Linked DNA regions of Homo sapiens. The protein of the gene in region 1 purifies or fractionates together with the protein of each later gene. This does not show direct contact. Each region holds a gene or a part of one and is shown on either strand. Other genes may lie near its edges.

What was found.
Region 2: the proteins of TPPP2 (region 1) and BTBD1 purify together in Homo sapiens (affinity purification with mass spectrometry; one large-scale study listed by BioGRID and IntAct). This does not show direct contact.

The regions. Positions count from the first base shown.
Region 1 is NC_000014.9:21,028,530-21,033,061, forward strand, and holds TPPP2 (tubulin polymerization-promoting protein family member 2), read left to right. Parts: upstream 1-1,687; 5' UTR 1,688-1,775; intron 1,776-1,983; 5' UTR 1,984-2,052; coding exon 2,053-2,225; intron 2,226-2,482; coding exon 2,483-2,636; intron 2,637-3,362; coding exon 3,363-3,548; 3' UTR 3,549-3,790; coding exon of another isoform or gene 3,791-3,838; 3' UTR 3,839-4,286; downstream 4,287-4,532. UniProt on the Homo sapiens protein: Probable regulator of microtubule dynamics required for sperm motility. In contrast to other members of the family, has no microtubule bundling activity.
Region 2 is NC_000015.10:83,015,809-83,019,294, forward strand, and holds the end of BTBD1 (BTB/POZ domain-containing protein 1), read right to left. Parts: intron 3,046-3,486; coding exon 2,899-3,045; intron 2,418-2,898; coding exon 2,259-2,417; 3' UTR 615-2,258; downstream 1-614.

The DNA.
Region 1 (4,532 bases):
GAGAGGTGGGTGATGTTTGGTAGGGTAGATTGGGGCCTAGTTAGTTGTATAGGTCCTTGAATGCTAAGCAAAAAGATTTAGCAATGAGAAGCTATAGTATATCTTGAGCCACAGAATATTCTTGAGCAGGAGTAATAAAAAATACTGTTTTGTGAAAATTAATCTGATGGGGAGGAGGTAATAGAGATGGATTATGGGTGGGTGGGAGTGAAGAATTAGATTTAGAAAAGAGATCATTTAGAAACCAGAGTAGTCATCCAACTATGAGATGATAAGAACTTGAATAAGGGTGGAAGCAATAGGAATGGAAAGAAAGGCATAGATTTGTAAGACAAAGAAAAAAAATAGAAAGTGGTGGCATTATTAGATGGGAAAAGGAGGAAAGTCACCAGTCTCGTTGCTCTGTTTTAGGATCCGTGAGGTTCATCTATCTGTAGTGCTTCTGGCCAGAGAAAAGGCCGAAGAGAGAAAACCCTGAGGAACATCTTTGACCTGCATAGAAACTTATCTGAAGATTTTCAGAATCTGAGCCTCACCCTCAGTCTATCCCAGTTTTATCCTGACCTGTCCACATCTGTTATACTCCAAGGCTTGCTGGGCCCAACACTGGAAGCTATTTAATGTTTCTATTGCGACTGGCCTTTTAAAGCCAGTGGGATTCTCCATGCTACACTTGAGCCTGGAGACTAGAAAACATGACAGCCTGTTTTCATTAATCCGTTTTCATTAACTGCTGTGGTCTGAATGTTTATGTTGTCCACAGATTCATATATTAAAATCCTAACTCCCGGCTGGACGCAGTGGGTCACACCTGTAATCCCAGCACTTTGGGAGGCTGAGGCAGGTGGATCACTTGAGGTCAGGAGTTCGAAACCAGCCTGGCCAACATGGCAAAACCCCGTCTCTACTAAAAATGCAAAAATTAGCCAGGCATAGTGGCTGGGCTAATCCCAGCTACTGGGGAGGCTGAGGCATGAGAGTCGCTTGAATCCTGGGACTGGAGGTTGCAGTGCCCCAGGATCATGCCACTGCATTTCAGCCTGGGCAACAGACAGCGAGACTCCATCTCAAAATAAATACGCAAATAAATAAAATAAAATCCTAACTCCCAAAGTCATGGTATTAGGAGATGGGGCATTTTGGGGGGTGATTAAGTTTTATGAGGGCAGAGCCTTTCTGAATGGGATTCATACCCTTATAAATAGGCCCAAGGGAACTCATTCACCCCTTCTACCATGTGAGGACACAGCAAGAAGGTGCCATCTATGGACCGGAAAGCAGCCCTCACCAAACACTGAATCTGCCAGCACCTTGATCTTAGACTTCTCAGCCTTCAGAGCTCTGAGAAATAAATGTCTGTTGTTTATAAGCCACCCAGTTTGATATTTTGTTCTAGCAGCCCAAACAGACTACAACACCTTCCCTGGGCTCGCCTCAGCTTCTGTTGTGGGGCAGAGCATAAGGCAATTTGACTAGGACCCAGAGGATGGGTAAGCTTGGCTGAAATGATGGAAATGTGATCATCTGAAAAGGTCAGAAAGTTGGCAGTTTGCTCAATTCGGCATGCAAGGTAGGGAGACCAAAAGCCCCCTCCTTTGAAGGCAATGGCTGTAGCTGGGGCCAGAAGTGATGTCACATAACCACTGCTGAGGTCATAGAATCTTCCCTCTCCTCCCTCTGTCTCCTCATTGCCACAGCCAACCGGCTCCCACATATCTGCACACACTTAAATACAAAGGCCGGGAAGGGTCAGACCACCATCCGGGTACTCTAAGGTACATAAAAGAGGTAGGGGAAAGAGAGGATCATTCAGTAGGTAGGATCCACACTGGTATCTCCAATGCTGGGAATGGGAGACTCATGCTGTAGTTGCGTAGGTGCAATGGGAGCTGGGAGGGAGAAAGGAGAGAGCAACAGGGAAGAGGGGAGCTGTTCCTGTTGCTGACTGATTTTACCATAACACTCATCCTCATTACTCCACAGTCCTCCCTCCCCCTTCTCCTTCACCCCCAAGTGTCTCCCACGACTGCCCTCCCCGACCTCTAGCTGACCATGGCATCAGAGGCAGAAAAAACATTCCATCGGTTTGCTGCGTTTGGAGAATCATCAAGCAGTGGCACTGAAATGAACAACAAGAACTTCTCCAAGCTGTGCAAAGACTGTGGCATCATGGATGGCAAGACAGTCACCTCCACGGACGTGGACATCGTGTTCAGCAAAGTCAAGTGAGGAGCCAAAAATATGGAGGTGGGGGTGAGAAGAACCTGCGAGGTAGTTGGCCACGGAAGGGTTCACGTGGTGGAACATTTGCAGTGGGCCTACCAAGCACCACAGGGTACCTGGCGCTGTGCTATCCTTTGTCTTCGAGACACTCACTGATTGATAGGACAAAAGAGGCCAAATCTGAGTGAGGCAAGAGTTGGACCTTGGAAGGTAATGCATTCATGCTCCAAAGTTTCTGGATTTCTGTCTAACTGACCAGGGCCAAGAACGCCCGAACCATCACGTTTCAACAGTTCAAAGAGGCAGTGAAGGAACTGGGCCAGAAGCGCTTCAAAGGGAAGAGTCCAGATGAAGTCCTGGAGAACATTTATGGACTCATGGAGGGCAAAGACCCAGCCACCACTGGCGCTACTGTGAGTGACAGCCTTCATCCCCTTGACCCTACTTCCCTAAATCCCCATTGTTCCAGTCTACCCTCCCTAACCCTGCCAACTGTGTGACTGTAGAGACAGGGCCGAAACAGACTTTAGAGATCATCTAGACATTCCAGAAGTCAGGAAAATGTGGCCCAGAGAAGGGAAGTGACTTGCCCAAGGTCCATGGCTATTTTAATAGTAGATTTAGACTAATTTCCAAGTGTCTAGTATCTGAGCCAGGCAATTAGGGCTTGGTAGCTTTTGGAGGACATTAGTGTAGAGAATTTGGTACCTGATGCCCACTCCTCTTCCAATTCTTATTTAGGGTTTAATCTCAGGCCTCCTGCCTCTCACCTACTCCCTTTTTTAATTGTCCTGTCTGAACTAAAAGCTCTTTCTACAGTGGATATTGAGTCGGGGAGTGGGAGTGAAGTCCTCAGGCAGCAGCCTAGTCAGAATAACTCCTCTGGAAACAAAAAACCTACCCTCCCTCTGCACACGCCACACTCATTCCCACACCACACTCCTCCTCCCCCATGAGTGAACGGCTCTTACCAGAGTACCTGCCCACAGCTGTATCTGGGCCCTAAGAAAGCAGCACCCCATGCCAGTGGCAGAGCAAGAGCTCCAAGCACTTGTTCTAAGTATCTCGGGCCATCTTTGGGGAAGGGATATGACAGCGTAAGGAAAGGAAGAGAGCTCAAATCCATCCCTGGCTTGCAGAAAGCAACAACAGTGGGTGCAGTGGACCGTTTGACAGACACCAGCAAGTACACCGGCACCCACAAGGAGCGCTTTGATGAGAGTGGCAAGGGCAAGGGCATTGCGGGACGGGAAGAGATGACTGACAACACAGGCTATGTGAGTGGTTACAAGGGTTCTGGCACCTACGATAAGAAGACCAAGTAGAGAGGAGCTTCATCTCAGCCTGCTAGCCCCCTGACCCTGCATGTTTAACACCAGGGAGCTTGGAAAACAATAAACATCTGTGTGTGCAGCAGCCAAAATCTCTGTCTGTGAGGGACAGATGAGCCTACTAGTGTAGAGAGAGGGAGAAGAGGCAGCACAGGAGGGTGGGTTCTCCACCACACACCCTTCGCTCTGCTTAGCCTTATGCCTACCAGCCATCAGTTAGCATTCCTCCTCAACAGCTGCTTCCAAGAACAGGATGGAAGAATATATTTGGAGTAAAGAGATGAACCAGATGTGGAGGTAAAAGTATCTACTACTTGTGTTCACACATTACTGATATCCACCTCTCCACCCCCACCCCTCAAAAGGGTGTAGCAATTCCTCACGTGATGGACTATGACTATATCACATATTAGATCCTTCCCTGTCCCTCCACCTTCCTCATCTGTTGCAATTCAGGTTTTTTGGGTGGAGGAGTAGAAGCCAGCTAAGGTTGCCTGACTTCTATTACAAATTTGTTCCAGAGCTGGGGTAAGGGGAGAGTCTATTTTCAACACCCAGCCCAGAACTAAGTTTTACCCCACATCACCTCCATCATGGGGCACATGGGACAGAAGAGCTTACTGACTGCTAAGGGTAGCTCAGGAAGATGGCCAGATGAGGCAGGCTGCCAGGATTCCAAGAGCAGGAGTTCTGGTGCACTGAAGAAAAAGCAATTAAATCACAACAGAGTCAGATGTGTGTTATTAACTTTTTATTTTGAATTGATTATGGGTTGACAGGAAGTTACAAAAAATGGTACAGAGGGGGCTCGTGTGCCCTTCACCCAGTTTCCCCCAATGGTTACATCTTACATACTCAGATGTGGTTTTAGAAATTTATGTTCGATTAGAGCCGGGCCTGCCTCATTCGCTGCCTGGTCAGGGGCAGACTCTGGAGTCTGGGGGATTTGGGAGGAGCTTCTGGAAGAGAAGGGAAGCA
Region 2 (3,486 bases), on another chromosome or scaffold:
GTAAGATGATAGTCACACTCTTAACAGTAAATAAGATTATTTATTGGATTCTCCCACATTCAACCTCCACCTCCTGATTAGAACAGGAGAAAAACCTGAGGCCACAAGAAATGATCAAGAAACAAAAGGCTGCGGCAGTTATCACTGCAGTTCCTATGAACTGGTTTAAATCAGCAATGAGGTATTTGTATTTTGTATTGCATTACTCCCATTAAGTTAAACCTCAATTAACTAGAACCTTTGTTCCAAAATGGTGTTGACAGCCAGGCGTGGTGGCTCACGCCTGTAATCAATCCCAGCACTCTGGGAGGCCAAGGCAGCTGAGGTCAGGAGTTCGAGACCAGCCTGGCCAACATAGTGAAACCCCATCTCTACTAAAAATACAAAAATTAGCTGGGCGTGGTGGTGGGCACCTGTAATCCCAGCTACTCTGGAGGCTGAGGCCGCATAATAGCTTGAATCCAGGAGGTGGAGGATGCAGTGAGCCGAGATTGCACCACTGCCCTCCAGCCTTGGCAACAGAGCGAGGCTTCATCTCAAAAAACAAACAAAAAACAAATCAAAATTCTGTTTATATTCACTTTTAGAAGAAAAAGGCAAATGACATAAAAGAGTTTTTTTTATATATATATATATTTATTTATTTTTAAAAACTCCAGGGGATGTCCCAAAGTTAGTAAACAGTTCTGTTTCTTGTCCCTTTTATGGCTGCATGCAGTTTCAATTGTTCAGTACAACAGATGAGGCATTTAAAAGGTCTCCAACGTCAAGAAACACTAACTCATCTCTGGCATATCATATTTTTTAAGGCAGAAGTATTTTCTGTAATGGTTACTACAGAGTGTTTACTGGTTAATTTTTAGTTAACCAGAACCACACATCCCATAGATAATTCCATTTAACTGAGGTTTATATCCGTAAGAGCATTACCATAGAAAAATTTCCCTTTAGCAATTTCAAGAGACCTCAGCCACCAATATACCTACCTTCTTTACAATATAAAGTGAAATATTACTTTAGATGAAAATTTTTTGTATCTTACTTAGAAAAAATTAAGTTGATATTTAAAAGAATTTTGATTTTTAATCACCTTCCACAACGATTTGATATACCTTAAACTCCACTTTCATTTTTTATAAGAGAATCACTTTCAAGGGAAAAAAATGGATGTTACTATATTTTAAAATCTGCTTTATAAAAAAGTGTATAAATATCAATCTGCCAGATATACTTCCTATCCCCAACACAGCTGTAACACTGACTAATGGGGTCATGACCATGAAGCAAATTTTACTTCCTAAATAGAAATGTGTAGGTGGCAGAAAGCGTATTTTTCAGCAGGAGTGATTCTGTTGGATCTCTTTACAATGTCAGAGCAGTTGTTAGAAATGTTAGTATTTTATTCGGTTTCTTGCTGTGAAGGATTATCACAATGTTGAAGTGATGGCTGTTCACCCAGTCGTCATCACCGTCATCATCTCAATCTTGGGAATCATCAGCAGTGTCCCCCACACAGAGAGACAGGTATAGTGGTGCAGTTTAGTGACAGGGAATCCAGTCTTAGATCCTGTTTATATCACATTTTTGTGAATTTACACAAAATTCCATTTATAGCTTTAAAACTGTACTACATAACACATTACTATACTACTACAAAATATCCTTCTCTATAAATGCACTGAATATTTTCTTGGGCATTTTATTAGGCCTTTTTTAGCATTATTACAAATGCTAACAACAAGATACTTCAAACCACCAAATATAAAGTCAGCTTCTTAATTTTCTGAAATTTAGTTATTTGAGTTAATAAGAATTCTGTAGGAATACTGACCCATCTCTTTTCATCCAACCTTCAAAATAGTTAAGCCTATTTGCCCATCTCACCTAACCTTCAAAATAGTTAAAACAAAAACAAACCCAAACTAGCTATATATAACAAGAATCTTTCAATTCCCAAACTATTGAAAGACCCTAAGTCAGCCAATCTATGAAATTATACAAGATGAAGGTGAAAAAGCTGTGCTTTTTTTTAAACCATTAAACCCAGTTCTTTTCTCTTAAAGTTGTAAGAAAATGGAAAATCTGTTTTTAAATCATGCAAAGATTTAAATAAGCATTTTTCTATCTGCTCTAAGAAACTGTTTCTTATCTTACAATTTTAAATATTCATAACACTCAAACTACTTTTTTGTGGCCATTTATGTTTTTGACACTAGATTGTATGGTATTATTTAGCCAAGATGTATTATAATGCTAAATTATGTATAAAATATGATTTCTGGAATTTGTCCATCTTCTATTGAAGTGCCATTATTATTGCCAGGGGAACTAAAAAAGAAAAAAACAGTCTTGCTTGCAGCAGGTGTCTCATGCACTACTTTCTTCAATCCTTTTGTGCCATAGTGGGAATCTGGACCCTAAATGAGAACAAAAGGTTCCTTAGTAATTTTCATTTAATAAGCACTCAGTTTAATGTGGTGTTTTAATTAGATTAATGTTCCATTATATTTCACTATCATTCCTATATAAAATTTTATGCTGTCATTTAGAGAAAAATGAAGTTTTTACCAAAAAACTAATTAATGAATAAAAATACTGAATGTACAGCCCAGCTATTAGAGAATAGTGAAAAGATTTTACAAAAATAACTTTTATTTTCTGCCAAACATTCAACTGCTTACTGAAACAAAGGGCTACTTCTTAAGAAGAGCTATTTCTTTCAGAACAGAGCTGTGGGGAGAAGTACTTCTTTTCGGAAGGCAGTGGAATATTTTAGCTCCCAGCTTCTTTTCCCCCCTCTTTATAAATGGCTCAGCTGTCAGTGACTCTCAGCTTCTAAAACACACATTCTGCAACATTCAAGAGGAAACCATCTGGAACATAGTGCATGACTCTTACTTTGAGTGTTGCACATGCTGTGTAGCACACATTGGGCAGGATCTCTATGGGTTCCTTGAACATGACCCTGAATGTGTTAGCTGTCCCATCACAACTAAAGCCGGTATCATTCTGTCCCAGGGTTTGCTTTTTCTCATATTCAATGATCTGTAATTTTTAAGAGACAAGTTACATTTAAGTTAAACCAAATAAAGCAAACTATAGAAAATAATATAAAGCCCTTAGCAATGTGTGCGTGTGTGTTTTGAGACAGACTCTCACTCTGTTGCCTAGCCTTGGGGGTGGGGGGGTGGGGGGTGGTGTGTGTGTGTGTGTGTTTGAGACAGACTCTCTCACTCTGTTGGTGGGTGTGTGTGTGTGTGTGTTTTTGAGACAGACTCTCTCACTCTGTTGCCTAGCCTGGGGTGCAGTGTTGGGGTCTCGGCTCACTGAAACCTCCACTTCCCAAGCTGAAGCAATTTTCGTGCCTCAGCCTCCTGAGTAGCTGGGATTACAGATGTGCGCGACCACACCTGGCTAATTTTTTTGTATTTTTAGTAGAGACAGGGTTTCATCATGTTGGCCAGGCTGATCTCCAACTCTTGGTCT